2 linked regions of the Homo sapiens genome follow. The protein of the gene in region 1 binds, or shares a complex with, the protein of each later gene. Each region holds a gene or a part of one and is shown on either strand. Other genes may lie near its edges. A codon is read from its position in the direction of its gene.

Region 1 (10,447 bases):
ATTTCAGACTCTCAGGATATGTGGTGAGTGCAGTGGTTAGAAGTCATGCGGGGACCAGGTTAGTGGTGAGGGGCGGGGCTTATTTTTACCCTTTCCATAGTCTAATATCTAAGCCCCCCATTCCCCATTCCACTACTGCACCCCTATCTCTGGCCAAATATCTTCTCCCCACCACTCCAGGCTGACAAAGTCTGCCTCTACCCTCAGACAGTCCCCTCTTCACTCTCCATCCCCCCTTTCTCCCCTCAGAAAGAGATGCTGAGTAAACCTGGCTTTCTCGTTTATACAGCTTCTCCCCATGGAACACATCATTAAAGAATAACTGTGACCTCTCGTGTTGTTTATTTAGCCCTGATTTCACAACATGCAGGAAATCAGACAGCCTTGATATTTCACAATATGCTGGCTTTGCCACAGTGAGTTTAAACCCAACCCAAGCTTCATTTGCTTCTAGAAAGTACCATCAAAGTACCTCAAGTGAGAACAGACTAGAATACATTTCACGTCAGAATATACATTAGATATATTGCAAAGTATATTTTTGGCCACCGGACTGGCAACTCCTTCCTGGCTCTCCATTCTAGTTCAACATCAGGTTCAGGCAGAGGCATTGTCTCCCACACACACTAATTCCAACCTGTGCCCCTCCTGGATGCCCAGGTCACCATGAGTATTCCAGTGCCATTGCTTATTTTTATTTTTATTTTTTGCAATTTTCACTGCTTTCCTTTTACTCTTAATAAGCATGAGGCCAGAAGTCCCAAGCAGTGGCTAAGGGGTTAAGAGCCTGGCTAAAGCATCTGACTGACTTGGATTTAGTAATACCTTTGCTTCCTACTGGCCAGTAACATTGGACTACTTAGTCAATCTCTGTGTGCCTCAGTTTCCTTATCCTTAAAATAGAATGTCTACATCATAGGGCATTGTAAGGAGTAAATGAAGTAATGCAAGCCCACTGTCTAGCATAGTGCTTGTACAAGTACTATGTACAAGTAGCAGATAATATTGCTGACATATTCACCCTTTTTGCCCACTATATTTTTCTCCTCTTTGATCTCCTGACTCCTCGCCCTCCAACCACACATTCTATTAGTTAGACAACACTACGCTTGTGTTTTCAGGAAAGGGAAGAGAAAAAGGTGAATAGGATATCTCCTCCTAGTTCCGTGTTTCAATAAGTCTGCATTATTAGGGGAACAAAAAGGAAAATAAGAATTTGAAGAGGGGAATTCTCATTTTCCCATAACCCCAAACAAAATAAAAACCAAACCAAACCAAAACAAACTGGAAAAGATTCCCCTAGTTGGGGGTGCAAAGATGATAATGAGGAAGCCATGAGGTCTTCTTGATCGGAGGAGGCGGTAGACAGGGACATGGGTAACTTCACAGAGAGTCCCTGTGGCCTGGCACAGGTGCATGTGATATAATATAAATGGTATATGAGCTCTCCTCTGGGATATGTAAGCCTATCTGCATAAAGCAGTTCTGTAATGTAAGAACTTTGGAATGATGGGTAGGGGAGGAGGGAGGAGAGAGTAATTTTTTCTTATGGAGGCTGTATTGCTCAGGATTTAGGATGCCCCACAAACATTTAGGAATAACATATGTCAAATCACTAGGGTGTGATGGTACATTTTATAGATCACCTTCAATAAGAAGAAAGCCAAGACTTTTAGAAGTATCTTGGAGCCTGACCTGTCCCAAAGTAGGCAAGGCCTAGGGCCATTTCCATTCAAACTCCTGGGATCAAGTGATTCTCCTGCCTTGGCTTCCCAAAATGCTGGGATTACAGGCATGAGCCACCTGGCCCGGCCTGTGGTGTATTTTAAATGTTTATATTTAACACATTAACACTTTGAACATAAAAGTATACAATGACTACATCATTAAACTCATTTGAGTATAGTATCAACATTCTAAATTTAAGGTAGAGCCCAAAGAGCCCTCTTGCTTCCCCTCGATAGCCCTTAGAGTCTGTGAAGAAAGCTCTTTTTCTAAGTCCCGAATGATTGCATAATTTCAACAGGCACCAGCAATCATTCATTAAGTGTACTTGTTCTTCTCAGATAAAGTCTTCTGATTTTAGGTATAGAGAGATCACCGTATCTCCTTGCCACAGCATCAGTCTCCTCATTTTCCGCCCTTGTCTGTTTGTGTTGCTATAACAATACCTGAGATTGGGTAGTGAAAAGAGGTTTATTTGGCTCATGGTTCTGCAGGCTGGACAAGACGCACGGCACAGACATCTGCATTGGATGAGGGCCTCAGGCTGCTTCCACTCCTGGGAAGGCAGAAAGGGAGCACACCTGTGTGAGGCACATGGGCAGAGAGGAAGCTAGAGAGAGAAGGAGGAGGTGCCAGCTCTTTTCAACAACCCGCTCTCTGACAACTCACTCATGCCTGAGGGAGGCATTAATCTATTCATGAACAATCTCTCCTCAGGACCCAAACACCTCCCATTAGGCCCCACCTCCAACACTGGGGATCAAATTTCAACATGAGATTTGGAGGGAACACAAATCCAAACCATAGCAGAGAAGTCACCAGGAAGAGTCCTGATTGTCTCCCTGCCCTGGCATCAGCCTCCTCATCTAAACTCTGGGAGCAGTAACCCCTTCCCAAGCTGTCTGCCCCTCCAGAGTGTGTTCAGGGTTATTAGTGGCTGGCAAGCAGGGGCTACTCCCTGGATGAGAGGGCAAAGTCTCTCATAGGGTGAGATGATCCTGTGGCAATAAACTAACAATGCCAATTAGCGGTGCAGACATGTCCTATAGATCAGAAATGAGGAGGAAGTCCCAAAGGGCATTGAGAAACTTAAATCTGGATTTTGGGGCTTTGTGTCAAAAGCTTCTGAACATAGCTGTGGGTAGAGAAGATGGAACTGAACAGAAAGACAGCCAGGCCAGCTGCTAAAAAGTTATGCCAGCCTCGGTGATAAGACAGAGATTACTGTGGGATCACAGACTGCTATTTTGGGAACATACATTATTTTCTTAAAAGCTGTTTATATTTTCTGTAATTAGGTCCTTTTTGTTCTGTCTTATGTTAACACATTTAAAAATGCTAGCCTGGTCAGCTGTGTTAAGAAGAACCAAGAAAGAGATTTTCATTCGGCTTGTCCAGAGTTTTAAAGGGGAAGTGGCTTACTAACCGCCTGACATAGTGGAAACAGAGTGAGATCCTCAGAGAGCAGGTAAACTGAGGGCAACTTGAGCTGTAAACCCTTGTTTAGAAACTCTCCCACACTAAGATACATTTATCAAATTTGTCTCCATCTCTCCATCCCCACAGTCTGTTACTGTCCTGGTGGCCCAGACAAGAGAGAAGAAGGGACCTCAATGAACAATGAAAAGGAAGAGTACCCTGGGATTGGTGGTCCAGGGATGGGAGGAGTGGGTACCTATGGAGTTTGCCCTCCAGAATGGAGCCCGCAAACAGAAAATCTGATTGTAGCAGTCAGAGAGTAGGGGGTGGAAGTTCAGTGTGAGCATGAACTTCTGAGTGCCAAAGTACCTAGGCAGGCAAGTTACCAAATTTTTTTTTCTAGTTAGGGAAGGAGAGGACATATAGATGACAGGAGGACTTCAACCAATGCCTAGGTAGGGGACATGTGAGGGTTAGTGGGCTAGCATTGCTCCTTAAGCAAACTGGGGCACAGAGCAGAGTTAATGTAGCTAACTGAAACTTAACAGCAGAGAAGAGGCAGGATTAGGGGAAGAGAAAGGCTGCCGATTGTGGACACCTGAGGACTGGAGACCACCCACCCATCAGGCTGGGGACAGTTGAATCATTCAGGACCCCACCAGGTTCTATTTGAACACAGGACTGGTCCTCTGGGGCTGCTGCTTGAAGAGCTTTGGTAGCTACAAAATGTCCCAGCCTCAGTTCTGCCCTTACCATCTGCTCCAGTTATCTACTGAGTAACCTACCACACCAACACTCAGTGGCTTAAACAACAACAATCCTTTATTTTGCATTTTGAGCAGGGCTCAGCAGGGACCACTCACCTCTGCTCTGTAATGTCTAGGGCCTGTGACTCAAAAGGCTAGGGACAGCTGGGGACTGGTGGGACATTTCTCTTCCTACAGACTCAGGGCTTCTCCCCACAGTCTTTCCCATGTTCTCTGCAGCAGTCTCCGGGTAGCTGAACTTAGGGGTGACTTGAGGCTCCAAGAGCAAGAATTTGCAAAGGCCCCAGCAGAAGTTGCAAGGCATTTATGATCTAGCTTCAGAAGTTCCAGGATATGGTCATTTCCACTGTATTCTATTGGTTTAACAAATTGCTAAAACCTGCCCAAATTCAAAGCGAGAAAGTATAGACCCCACCTCTCAACGAAAGGAGTAACAAATAATTTGCCACCATTTTTAAACCATCATGCTATCTCACCAAGTCCTCAACAAAGCCTCCTAACTGATTTGCTGTCCTCAGATTCTCATTAGTGACAGATCGGGATGCAGCAATGCGCAGAGTAGAAAAAGTGAGGGTTTTGGAAGCCAACAGCCAGCCCTACATCCTGGTTCAAGCAGGATCCACCACTCAGCAACCAGTTGAGCTTGTTAGGTTACTTAACTCAGAGCCCCAGTGTTCTTGAGTGTAAAATGAGGATAATACACTATAGTTGCCAAGAAAATGTACTTCTTGGATCTTGCAGTGTAGATAGCATAACTGACCAATGGCTCCGCCTCAACTGCTGAGCTCTGCTGAAATCCATACCCTGATATTTATCCCTAGGTTGCTGCAAAGGCCAGCTTCCTAAGGCTGCTCCCAGCTCATGACTGAGCACAGCAGGGATACTAAGGCGGGCCTCTTTCTGGGAGATGCCAGACTTCTGGGACAAGCCCATTTGGCTAAAGGATTCCCCACCCCAATGGCCTTGCTGAACTTTTTATACATGGACTGTATATATATCAAATGCTTCCTTCCACCCAACCTTCCTTCCTTGCTTGCCTCTTTCCTTCACAAGGATCACACCTGCATCCCAGGTCCAGCTCCCTGTTTTCCCTCAAAACTCTCTTGCATAGTACCCCCATCTGGGACTGTTTCTGGAGGACTGGGACAAACACAACCTCCTATTCATAGGACTGCCAAGGGTATTAAATGAGTAGAACTGTGCAAAGAAACTAGTAAAGGGCTGGCGTAGAAGAAACACTCATTTAACGAACACTTCTTGAGTCCTGGCTGTGTGCAGGTCTTGGTCCTGGGTGTCTGGGACACCACAGTGAGCAAAGCAGGCAAGAACACCAGCGATGCCTGCTTTAAGCTCCTTCCCAACTTCCACATCTTTAACAGGATACCAAGAGCCCTTCAAAGTCTGACCTCTTGGGGCCTCAACACCTCCGACTCCACCCCCTGAACACCTGAGCCTACAGTCAAAAGGAACTTCCTTCTTGCTTCCTACAGGTTTTGCTCTTTCACCCCCAATGCCTTTGCTCACCGTTTCCTTCTCCGTGAAATGCCTCCTCCTCCCTTTTTTGCACATCTTCCATTCTTGCACATGCCCCTTACGTGACAAACTTATGCATCCCCCAGGCCCCAGTTCAATGTGGGGCCCTAGGTCATCCAGGCAGAACATGCTTGCTGGCATGATCTCAGCAGGCACCTGGTAGAAGCACTTGCTACATTGTGTTGTAATTGCGGTAACGGTGTCCCCGCTAACTTGCGAGCGCCTCTAGAGCAGGGGAATGTCCCAGCCACCTTGAATCCCCAGCGCGTGGCCCATGGGAGGCCCTCAGACCTATCTGCGGAATGAGTAAATGAGTGTGTGAACCAGGTTCGGCAATTTCGGTGGGGCGAGCGCTGGGCCTGCGGTGCAGGGCGCTGGGAGCGGCCAGGCCGGGCCTGGCTCAGGCGCCGCAGCCACTCAGGGCCACCGGGGACCGGCCGGGGAGGGCGCGGGCCGAATCACTGCCGCCGCCGCAGGGCACATGACTGCGGCCTCCGCCCCCGCCCGCCTCCCCGCGCAGTCGCCGGCGGTTGCCTCGCGGGGTTGCGGCGAGCCCGGCCCGCGAACGTCACGTCCCTGCGCGCTCCCTGCACTCTCCCGAGCTGCGCTAGGCGGGCGCCACGGCTGCCCGGCGAAGGAAACCGAAACCGAGTCCGGGCCCGTCCCTCCGCGGCCCCATCCGCCCGGTGCACCCGGGGCCGCGCTCGCCAGGCCGCGGAGCCCAGAGCTGCGCGCACGAACCGTGCGCCGGGAGGGCGTGGGCGTGGCGCCGAAGGGTCCCGGGTCTTCGACGCCTCTGCGGCGGCTCCTCCCTCCTTGCAGTTGGATCCCTGGCGGGTGCGGCCCGGCCCGGCCCGTGAGCGGCGCACAGAATGGGCCGATGCTGCTTCTACACGGCGGGGACGTTGTCCCTGCTCCTGCTGGTGACCAGCGTCACGCTGCTGGTGGCCCGGGTCTTCCAGAAGGCTGTAGACCAGAGTATCGAGAAGGTGAGGCGGGGCGGGCTGTGTGTGTGTTGTGGAGTCGTCCAGCTCACCCTCCCATCCCTGCTGCTACATCTTGTATGGGAAAGACCAGCACTCAGGCAGACCCTCCGCGCTAGAGCTCTTCTTGCGTCCCTGTCTTCCAGGGCTTGGTAGGCGAGGGTTAAAGAAGGATGAGGAAGGATGGAGCCGACTCTGTTCCCTTTACAGTGATAAGTAAGGCTATGGATCCTGACTTTTAAAAAGGCCTTCGGTTGTGTTCTGTCGTTTGCATCTCTCCCCACTCCTTCCGTCTACACCCCAATCTCAGGTGGGCCCAAACTTGTTTCCTTCCCACTTCATGAAGAAACAGAACTGAATGAAAGACACCGCAGAAGAGGCAGGTTATGTTGTCTGCTTGCTGTAGCCTTTGAAGTGGTGTGCGCCTGGGGATGAGACGTGGGTGTGCGGTCTATTGTGTTCTTGCCCTCTTGGGCTGGGCAGGGGCAGTTGGTAGCTGGGCCAGTCCTTTAGGCTGGGTGACAATTCATCCATCAGTCTTTGCTGAACGCTGACTTAGTGGCTTTGTATCTTGTACCAACAGTCTGTGTTGCTTTGTCTCACCATGAATTCTTGTTTTTCTCAAACGGCCATAATTTTCAGGCACAGATGCATTTAGATACCCTACAAGAATCTGAACTTGTCTCTTCCTCTAGATGATTGGGCTGGAGAGCCAGTCCTTTAAGAAGACTTCATCTTTTGATTTCACTGGTCATTTCATCTGCCCTTTCCCCCACATCCACCAAGCTGTGTCAAAAGAGGAACAAAAGAGAATTACTGGGATCATTTTTTCCTTAAAAAAGAAAAATAATCACTGGAGCAGCAGCCTTTCTTGTTAGCATCCATAACTGCACGCTTCATTTCTCCCACTGGTCTGCACTTGCTGCGGCCAGATAAAAAAGCCCAGGCCTAGTCTACTTTGAATCACTGCACTCTCCAGTCAGTAAAGCTATTTTATTCCAGGTGGCAATGGATATCTTCCTTTAACTGAGTTTCCAAAAGTAATTAAGTGAGTACCTGAAATCTGGCAGTTAAAGGCAGTTTTTCAAAAAGCACCATGGCAAAGCATAATGTAATTTTTAAAGTTCACATTGCCAAGGGAAGACAAGGCCCACTGTCTGAGCGTCTCGAGGGTCAGTTTCCTTTGAGCAATCATGTTCAAGGAAAAAAGAAACTGAATCCTTTCTCCACTCCTGTCCATGTCCAAATCCATGGTGAGCTGTGTTTGAGGATGTAAACTCTTGCTTTGGGTGACTAGAGTAAAGCAATCCAATTATAGTAAATATGTGAGTTTTCTTATATGGCCTTGAAAGGCTGTTTCAAGGAGCCCTATAGGATGAGTGATCTTCCCCGTGGTTCCCATATAGCCAGCCCTTAGATTCTCTGTGTGTCTCCATTTCTCTGGGTGAGGGGGTGGCTGTAAGGCAACTTGGCTGGGGCCTGAGTTTGTGTTGATATTTCCAAGTGTTTTTCTCCATGAGGAATGGACTCTGTTCTGATAAGTAATAGTACAGGGAAGTGGACTTTCAGAGCTGCTCAATCCCAGCTAAGGAGGACTGCACGGTGTATTGTATGAAACTAAAGGACAGGGCTAGTTTCAGTGGGCAGGTGTGGAAATACTGTTGTCATTAGAGGTAAGTCACACATCGCTATTCTGCTTTTTCCTGGATTACCTGTAGGGTGGTAGGTAGCATGGGACAGTGGGAAAGATTGAGGATGTTACACTCCTGGGCATGAAACCTAGCTTCCACTATGTCCCAGCTCGGTGACCGTGGGCTGTTTAATCTTACTTGATTCATGTTTTCCCCATCTGTAAATAGGGATAATAAGGACTAACGATCACATCTGCTTTGTCAAATAATTCTTATAACCTTAAGGTGTGATCTTTCTGGGATATAGTTAGTGCTTAATAGGTGATAGCAACTTTATTTTTATTAGAAGCCACACAAAGAAAATACGTGAGATTTGGAGTCAGATTCCATATGTTCAAATCCTATCCTTGCCAGTATAAGCTTTATGACTTACGTCAAATAACTTACTTGGTCCTCAATTTCATTGCTTGTAAAACTGGGGATATGAGCTGTTAGCTAACTTGGGCACAGTGATGCATTTACCATGAAACTCGCAAAGTTAAGCTTTGGGTCTCTCACTTGCACAGACCCTTGCGAAGCCCTGTACCTCATTCTATATCCCAAATTTTCTTTTTTCTTAAGAAGGACCCTTCAAATTGTATAAGCTTCAGGACCCACAAAACCTGGATTTGTCTCTGCATGTGTATTATTGTAGGACCAAGTATAAAGCACTTAGCATAGTATCAGGCACAGAATAGGTAATCAATATGTGGCAGTCATCTTTATTGCCACTAGTATTACTATGGGAGAATTCATTCATAACTTGATTCTAATGTAGTTATAATATAATCTACTCTGATATTTCCAGTTCTTTGTTTTTTCATTTGAAGATTGTCTATGCCCCGACTTGTCTATGTCAAAAAGGGAAGAGGGAAAAGGGATGAAATTCAAATGAGTAGGTGTGGGAAGCTTAGTAAGAGAATTCCTATCCAAAAAGTTGTCTCAAATGATAATTGTCCTTGAACCCTGCAGTGACCAGAGGTAACTGAAGAGAGACTTTTAATTTTGGCCAGTGAATATCGTGGAAGGAACCAAGACAATTTTGTTTCATTTTTGGCCTCAGTGGTGACTGCCTCGTATTGGGCAAGGCCTGTAATTGTTTCTGCTTCAATTTTCTCATTTGCAAGAGAGGCATAATAGTACTTCTCTTTTTCCCACACCCTCTTCCTAGGGGATATTGTGAGCATTAATAAGGCATTTCCTTACAAGCGTTTGGGCCTTCATGAAGAGAGAGCTTTGCAGAGACCCAGCAGTTCCTTTTCCTCCCTTAGGCCTGGAAAGGCAGGAGTTTACGTTACATTTCATCTGGTATCCCAGTGAACTGCCTTGACACCTAGCACAGTGCCTGAGATACATATTAAATGCCTCTTCACTCGCCTGTGATCATTTTAATAGAAAGAAGAGTGTCCTGAGAATCAGCAGAACTGAATCAAACATTTTTTTTCTGTCCCTAAGGATTTCTTGGACTAAGCTGAACAAGCACAGTGGCAAGTTATTTAATCCCTCAAATCCTAAGGATCCTCATTTTGAAAATAGGAACAATAAGGATAAGAATACTTAACTCAGAGTTGTCACAAGAATGAAATAATATGATATCTATAAAGCACCCAGCACAATGCCTCGCACAATGCCTGAACGTTAACAGTTGTTATGTCTTTAGCTATATTTGTCATCTGTGAATTGAAACTTATTATACAAGCTATGGTTCCTCTTAGCTCCAAACTTCTGAGATCCCATGACCTTTAAGAGCAGCTATGCAGTTCAGAATATTAAGTTTGCGCTCCTAATCTCTGCAGACGTGCTGGCAGGTTGACTGTCTCCCAGTAATAGGGATGCAGAACTGGCCACAGTCAGGGCTGGCCAACAAGGGATGGGATGGCAAGGGAACCAGTGGGAGACTGTTTACACCTTTGACTTCCTCTTCACAGGTCAAGGCAGGACTGTAGCATTAGGTCTCAGAGATGCAATGAACAGGACAAATACACTTCCCCTTCATCTGGACCTGAGGCTCTGGGCAAGTCAGTACCAGCTGGTTTCTTTTGGGAGCCATAGAAACTCTGGAGCTGTTCTACCGATTCCTCAAGAAGTAAAATATAGGCCAGGCGTGGTGGCTCACGCCTGTTATCCTAACACTTTGGGAGGCTGAATCGGGTGGATCACAAGGTCGGGAGTTCGAGACCAGCCTGGCCAATATGGTGAAACCCTGTCTCTACTAAAAATACAGAAATTAGCTAGGCATGGTGGCAGGTGCCTGTAGTCCCAGCTACTCGGGAGGCTGAGGCAGGAGAATCGCTTGAATCCGGGAGGCGGAGGTTGCAGTGAGCCAAGATGGCTCCCTTGAACTCCAGCC
Region 2 (7,841 bases), on another chromosome or scaffold:
GGCAAGGAGTGAAACGGGACGCTGGGCCAACTGCAGGGCTCGGTGAATCAGGGGTATCTAGAGACAAAGGTAGTGAAGAGAGAAGCACCCAGAGTTGGAACACATACTAGCCCAACCAGTGCATCCGGTTCAGCCATTAGCCTCCACCCTCCCACCCCCAGGACAAAACAGCAGGGGACAAAATGTCTGTACAAGCAGACCTACCCTACAGTTTCTCAACCCCCAGACATCAGGGCCCTCAGGGCCTGAAAAAGCTAGAATGCCTACCTTGAGCTTGGTATCTTCCTCTGGGAGGCTGAAGTTGTGCAACTGGAAATCATCAGGGGTGTCTGCATAGGTGTAGGTGCGGATGGAGAAGTCACAGCTGGCCATGGGTACCCGGATGATGTTATATCCGATTCCTACAGAAAAGGATGATCAAGATATGGTAGTCCGAGTCAATAGGAGAGTATGGGACTCTGCTTATCACTTGCCAGTCCTAATAGTGTCTGAGTCAGGGCCAAAGGGAACTTGGGCTCCTGGGTTGGAACCTGTGGAGGCTGGCACCTGGGTGAAGCGCAGGCCTTTCTGAGCCTGAGTCCGTAGCAGTTAGCAGATGATAGGCGGTGAAATCTTATTTCACAGGGCATTAAAACAGGAACCAAATGTCAGGGATGGGCAGAAGTCAGGGTCCAAAGAAAGGGCAAAGAAAAGTGTCAGTGGCTCACGCATGTAATCCCAGCACTTTGGGAGGCCGATGTGGGCAGATCACGAGGTCAGGAGTTCGCAATCATCCTGGCCAACATAGTGAAACCCTGTCTCTACTAAAAATACAAAAAATTAGCCGGGCGTGGTGGCAGGCACCTGTAATCCCAGGTACTCGAGAGGCTGAGACAGGAGAATCACCTGAACCCGGGAGGTGGAGGTTGCAGTGAGCTGAGATTGTGCCACTGCACTCCAGCCTGGGTGACAGTGCGAGACTCTGTCTCAAAAAAAAAAAAAGAAAAAAGAAAAGTGTCTGCTGGGCTCGGTGGCTCACACTTGTAATTCCAGCACTTCGGGAGGCCAAGGCAGGTATATCATTTGAGGTCAGGAGTTTAAGACTAGCCTGGTCAACATGATGAAACCCTGTCTCTACTAAAAATACAAAAATTAGCCAGGTGGTAGTGGCGCACGCCTATAATTCCAGCTACTCAGGAGGCTGAGGCAGGAGAATCACTATAGCCTGGGAGGCAGAGGTTGCTGTGAGGGGAGATCACACCACTGCACTCCTGTCTCGCCGACAGAATGGGCAGAGTGAGATTCTGCCTCAAAAAAATTTTAAAAAAAGAAAAGAAAAACGAAAAGTTTCAATGGCTCTATGTCATCTTGTCCCCTTCCTCCTCACCTTCTTCAGAGAAGTACGATTTAAGTAGCAAATTTTGGGCAGGGGGTGACAGGGCAAGGATGTTGAGAGCAGCAGCATCTGTCATGGCCCCTCCAAATCCCTTCACTTTCTGGAACTTCTGTTCTGGCTGCAGGGTCAGTAGCAGGCCTGAGGACATCCACAGGGAATAAGGGTATCAGTACCCAGCGGGAAACTCCATGGTGATCACTGACACCATTTACCTCTAGGAGGACCCAGCCTGGCCCAGGGGGTGAGGGGTGTAATGGTTACCTGTGCCCGTGTGATTAGCCTGGATGGGCCCCATACTCAGCTCCATCCGTCGCCCACTGCGTGTACTCTCATAGCGGCTGAAGGTACCAAGGGCAGGAAAGGTCGGGGGGTCAAAGGAGTCACAGTATGTGGCATTGCAGACACACACCACCGAGCTGTAGCCGAAGCTTTTAGGGATGCAGGGGCGGGCACCTGGGAGGGAGGGAGTACAAGCAGAGTGAGGTCTGATGAAGACATGGAGAATGGACACATCTGCTAGGAGAGACTGAACACGGTTTCAAAATTCCTCACCCCTTGGCCGGGCGCAGGGGCTCACACCTGTAATCCTAGCACTTTAGGAGGCCGAGGTGGGCGGATCACCTGAGGTGAGGAGTTTGAGACCTGCCTTGCCAGCATGGTGAAACCCCGTCTCTACTAAAAATACAAAAATTAGCTGGGCGTAGTGGTGGCCGCCTGTAATCCCAGCTACCTGGGAAGCTGAAGCAAGAGAATCGCTTGAATCTGGGAGGCAGAGGTTGGAATGAGCCAAAATTGCACCACTGCACTCCAGCCCAGGCAACAGAGTAAGACTCTGTTTCAAAAGAAAAAAAACAAAATCCTCACCCCAAAGTTGGTCTCAGTCACTCAAAAGGATTTATTGAGCACCTACTAAAAGTCTACCACCAGCTTACTGGAAGGCTACCAAAGGACTATGAGGCAGAAGGGAGGCTCTGTGCTACCTCCCCACTGCCTTGACTCACTCACCTGATGCCCACGACACTGCCTGAAGTAGAAGCAATCCTGTGAGGCTGCCAGCCATGATGCTTACCCTACTCAAAGGCTTGGGACATTCCTGAGGACAGAATGAGGAATGACTGAAAAGCAAGCCCCTCTCCACCCCTCAACTACTCTCCTGGGCAGGGCTTAGCTGCCTTTGGGTGCCCATGGCCCGGTCTCCCACATTCATTAGGACAAGGCCCACAGAAACCTGGGTGCAGCTCTCCCTGCAACCCTTCTGATGACAACTCTCTGCCCACCCCAAATCAGGATGCTCCCCACCACTCTTCCCACCCATTTCAACTTCGACCCCTCCCTCCATCTGTGCCTTGCTCAAAGAGCCATGATGGCCCTGGATTCAAAGAGAGTCTGTCATTCATTAAATTCCAGTGCCAGGATTCCAGAAGCACTGTGACAATGCTGATTGGGAGCTCTCTCTCTTACCTCTCTGGAAGGACTTGAAAACTCCATCCCCTCAGGGTCATTAGATGAAGAGAAGACCACAGGGGTTCCAGAGTCTCTGAAGGATAGAGGATCCACTAAACAAAAACAAGGATGCAGGTACCTGCCTTAGCTATAGGCACTAGGTTAGCCCTGCAAGTAATTCCGGCTTCCCGATGTGGATGGGTCATGTGATGACTAGGAGCGTCACATGACACAGGAAGTGAGGCAATCACAGCCATATTTCTAAAGGGCAATTGGCTTCCTCTCATCTGTTACAGATTATATGCCCTATAAAACTCTGGAGGGCATGTATGGGTGACAACTTTAGGAAGAGCCTAGAACACAGATTTGCATGGAGAATGGGGTAGAGGCTCCTAAATCCCAGAGGATGGGAACCACAGCAGGCACACTTCTTTTTTGATAGAAATGTCAAAAAGGTACAAATAAAGCTGATATAATTTAAAAAAAAAAACTTCACTGTGCAAAATACTGACACTACCAAGATGTTTAAGACAGTCTTTGCCCTATAGAGGTGTGTGAGGCATGGAAGTCAGACACACAGATATTTACAGATAAAGACAGAAACGGTAACAGGTGTGCATGGAGAGCTCTCTGAGATGAGGAGGGACCATTCGTGGGTGGGGAATTATCCAGGATGGCTTCACAGAGGAAAAAGTGAGGGGGGTTATTAGCCAGTGAAGTGCAGGGCACAAGAGGGTGGGACACTGGCAGTGGGATGACAGGACTGGAGGGAGGGAGTGGTCAGTGCGGCTCCTCTGCAGCGTCCCTTGTTTCATCATCAGATGCAGATGGTAATAACTGTTCTTCCTTCCTCACAAGACAGGGAGGTTTGTAAAGTCGTTCAAAAACCAAAGTGTTGTACAAAGCCATATCCTCAGTGGACACAAGGAGGAAGCTGTCCATGGTGTGGCCTCATGAACCACATCAAATGAGATTTAGCGGGAGTGGCACACACAGTCATGACCTGACTAATCCCAGCTCTCAGCCCATTTCCTTGCCTGGAAAATGGAGGCAATGCCACAACCTCAAAGGGTGGTTACTGCAGTCAGTGAGGTAAGTGCAGTGCCTGACCACTTGGTAGGCACCTGGGAACTACTTGTCTCTTGTTTGTATTTTTTGTTGTTGTTGTTTTTTGAGACAGAGTCTCACTCTGTTGCCCAGGCTGGAGTGCAGTGGCGTGATCTTGGCTCACTGCAACCTCCACCTCCTGGGTTCGAGTGATTCTCCTGCCTCAGCCTCCCAAGTAGCTGGGATTACAGGTGCCCTCCAACATGCTCAGCTAATTTTTTTATTTTTAGTAGAGATGGGGTTTCACTATGTTGGCCAGGCTGGTCTGAAACTCTGGACCTCAGGTGATCTGCTGCCTTGGTATCCGAAAGTGCTGGGATTACAGGCATGAGCCACTGCGCTGGACCCCAGCCATCCTTTTTGTTCTTTAAATGATCTCAGTGAAGTCTTTCTAGATACACTCCAAGCAAAATTGATCATTTCTTCTTCTAGGTTCCTCCAGTAATTTTTTTTTTTTTGGTTTTGAGACAGAGTCTTGCCCTGTTGCCCAGGCTGGAGTGCAGTGTGATCTCGGCTCAAGCAATTGCCCTGCCTCAGCCTCCTGAGTAGCTGGGATTACAGGAGCCCACCACCATGCCCAGCTAATTTTTGTATTTTTAGTAGAGATGGGGTTTCACCATGTTGGCCAGGCTGGTCTCGAACCCCTGACCTCAGGTGATCCACCAGCCTCAGCCTCCCAAGGTGTTGGGATTATAGCAATGAGCCACCACACCCGGTCCCTCCAGTAATTAAGTACAGTCTCAGTGAGACAGCAAGTTTGGAATCCTGGCTACACCATTTACTGGCTGTTTGACTTTCAATAAATCAATCACTCTAAGCCTCTGTTTCATCTATAAAAGGGGAGTGATAACTCCTACCTCACAGAATTGTTGTGAGGTTTGAGTGTGATAATGTGTCTCTAGTACACTGCTTGACACTAAACATTGCAACATGTCAGGCCTCTGTTCCTGGAGTTCCTTGAAGGAATGTCTTATGCATTCTAAGTATCCTCGTAGATAGCCTGGCACAGGGGTAGCTGTCAAGTTGTAGAATTGAACTAGTTGCTTCACTATGTCAGTAGCCACCCCTTCCAGACTTCTCACTTTTCAAGGAAACATTGCACAGGATTTGTTCTGGGTAGGGCAGGTAATATCTAGTACCTTACTTCCCTCAAGTTCATTCATCTCACAGATATTTCCTGAGCACATTCTACATTTGCCTCTCCTGCTCTATTGAGTTTAGAAGTCCAAACATCTCCTTCCACTTCCCCTCTGCATAGTGAGCCTCTTCTTTTTTGGCCAGGTACTGAGCAATTTTTTGTTTGTTTGTTTGAGACAGGGTCTCCGTATGTTGCCCTGGATGGAGTGTAGTAGCTTGATTTCGGCTCAGTGCAACCTCTGCCTCCAGAATAAGCAATCCTCCCACCTCAGCCTCCAGAATAGCTGGGACTATAGGCGCACACCACCACACCTGGCTAATTTCTGTATTTTTTGTAGAGACGGGGTCTTACTGTGTTGCGCAGGTTGGTCTCAAACTCCTAAACTCAAAGGATCCTCCCGCCTTGGCTTTGCAAAGTGCTGGGATTACAGGGTGAGGCACTGCGCCCAGTCCGCTTGTTTTTTGTTTTGTTTTTTTTTTTGAGACGGAGTATCTCTGTCACCCAGGCTGGAGTGCAGTGGCACGATCTCGGTTCACTGCAACCTCCGCCTCCTAGGTTCAAGCGGAGGGTAGGGACCAGTCCATCCTGGCACCCATCTGCAGCTCCAGTGCGAATCCCAACCCCGACGCTCGTCGCCGGGCTCCGTGAATGTTTGTCACATGTCTGAAGAACGTATGAATTACATAACCTTCTTCCCACTCCACCCCTCAAAAAGCAAGTGGATATAAAGACTTGAAGATTTTATAATCTCTTCTTCATTAGTAAAATCTGACCATCCTTACCGTTAAAAATAATAATGATGGTTGGCCGGGCGCGGTGGCTCACGCCTATAATCACAGCTGTTTGGCAGGCCGAGGCGGGCGGATCACGAGGTCAGGAATTGGAGACCAGCCTGACCAACATGGTGAAACCCCGTCTCTACTAAAAGATACAAAAAATTAGCCGTGCGTGGTGGCGGGTGCCTGTAATCCCACGTACTTGGGAGGCTGAGGTCGGAGAATCGCCTGAACCCGGGAGGCGGAGGTTGCAGTGAGCCAAGAAGGCGCCATTACACTCCAGCCTGGGCGACAGGGCGAGACTCCCTCAAAAAATAATAATAATAACAATAATAATAATAATGGTGAAAAAGGTTAAGTGCGAACGCAGGGAGGGGACAGCTAAGATCCAAAGGTCGAAATATTCATTACGCCTACCGTCGGCGAAGAGAAACAGCAGCCCCAACCGGAGGCAAAACGAAATCCCACCGCAGCCTGCAAAGGCGCCTGGGCGGGACTGGAGACTGGGGCCCCGCGCAGTAAGACTCTGAAGGCAGGATGCAGCCCGACCACCCGCAGCCGCGAGAAAAGCAGCCCTGGGGAGTCGGGGCGGGACCTGGATTGGAAAAGAGACGGTCACTCATGCAGAGGCGGGACTCAGAGCCCTTCCTCAAGTCTCATTGGTCAAGTTGAACGAACAAGTGTCGCTGGCGAGCCGGAGAGAGAGAGAGAGCGAGAGCGAGAGAGCGAGCGAGAGAGAGCGAGAGAGCGAGAGAGCGAGCGAGAGAGAGAGAGAGAGAGAGAGGAGCCGGCGCGAGAACTACGCATGCGTGTCGGCGTTTTCCCGCCAGCACACTGTTGGTGGATGGGGGCGATTGAATTCCCACAGTGAGTCCAGCCCACCGAAGCTCAGAGGATTCCTAACCTTCCTCTTTAGAGAGCCTCAGGTTAGGGAACGTCCAGTGCGCAGAAGCTGCCCCGTGGGAATCCCATTGTCCATCGCCTCCTAATGTTTCGTCCTGGCCGTGCCCTATCCCTTCCTGAGGCTGGGTTGTTATGATGCTGAATTATTCAAGAAGTCTTGCAGCCTGACGCCATCTCTGGGCAGTGCTCCTCCCACCTCCCTGTCTTCCTTGGAGGGCACCACGTTGCCCCTACAAGCACAGGGTCCTGAAGCTGTTTACAGGGCCCCACCCTGCCACTTTAGTATCTTAACGAATGTTTGTTGAGGACCTACTGAGTGTTAGACCCACTGCAATGAGCAAGTTTCTGATCTTGGGACCTTAACATTCTATGGGACGACACAGATATATAAACAAAAATAATAATTTTAGATAGTGATACATGCTGAAACCATGGGTATGTGGCCAGGCGCGGTGAGTCACACCTGTAATCCCAGCACTTTGGGAGACCGAGGCAGGCGGATTACTTGAGGTCAGGAGTTTGAGACCCGCCTGGCCAACATGGTGAAACCCTATCTCTTCTAAAAATACAAAATTTAGCTGGGCGGGCATGGGGACGGGCGCCTGTAATCCCAGCTACTCGGGAGGCTGAGGCAGGAGAATTGCTTGAACCCAGGAGGTGGAAGGTTGCAGTGAGCCCAAATCACACCACTGCACTCCAGCCTGGGTAACAAAGCAAGACCCTGTCTCAAAAAAAGACAAAATGAAACAAACAAACAAAAAAAAACATGGCTATGTGATAGAATGACTGCGATGGGGATTGGGTGCTCACTGAAATGGTGAGAATGGAGCTAAAACCTGATATTAGGTGATAGCACCAGATATAGGGGCCAAGGGTTTCATGCTTGGAAAACAGCAGGTGCAAACGTCCTTGTGCTGTGAGGAAATTTGGCTGGAACAGAAGGTGGGCCAGATTGTAGCTGACCATAGTCTCTGGGAGTTTGGAGATGATTCTAAATACAATGGGAAGCCATTAAATTGAGGCAGAGCCTTGATGTGACGTGCTTTATCATCATTTTGCTGAGTGGAGAATGGATTGCTGGGAAAAGTGAAAGACTGAT

The links.
Region 2: the proteins of SCARB2 (region 1) and GBA1 are in contact, whole or in part, in a cryo-EM structure (PDB 9FJF), measured with the Homo sapiens proteins. Residues at the interface, in NP_005497.1 of Homo sapiens: Lys161, Ala162, Tyr163, Gln164, Lys181, Glu183, Leu187, Phe191, Arg192; in NP_000148.2 of Homo sapiens: Leu130 (codon at 1,433), Asn131 (codon at 1,430), Ala134 (codon at 1,421), Ile169 (codon at 351), Glu190 (codon at 288), Lys194 (codon at 276), Leu195 (codon at 273), Pro430, Arg434, Ile445, Thr446, Asp448.

The regions. Positions count from the first base shown.
Region 1 is NC_000004.12:76,209,413-76,219,859, reverse strand, and holds the start of SCARB2 (lysosome membrane protein 2), read left to right. Parts: upstream 1-6,035; 5' UTR 6,036-6,316; coding exon 6,317-6,433; intron 6,434-10,447.
Region 2 is NC_000001.11:155,238,250-155,246,090, forward strand, and holds the start of GBA1 (lysosomal acid glucosylceramidase isoform 1 precursor), read right to left. Parts: upstream 3,001-7,841; 5' UTR 2,864-3,000; coding exon 2,837-2,863; intron 2,469-2,836; coding exon 2,381-2,468; intron 1,829-2,380; coding exon 1,637-1,828; intron 1,514-1,636; coding exon 1,367-1,513; intron 402-1,366; coding exon 268-401; intron 58-267; coding exon 1-57. UniProt on the Homo sapiens protein: Glucosylceramidase that catalyzes, within the lysosomal compartment, the hydrolysis of glucosylceramides/GlcCers (such as beta-D-glucosyl-(1<->1')-N-acylsphing-4-enine) into free ceramides (such as N-acylsphing-4-enine) and glucose.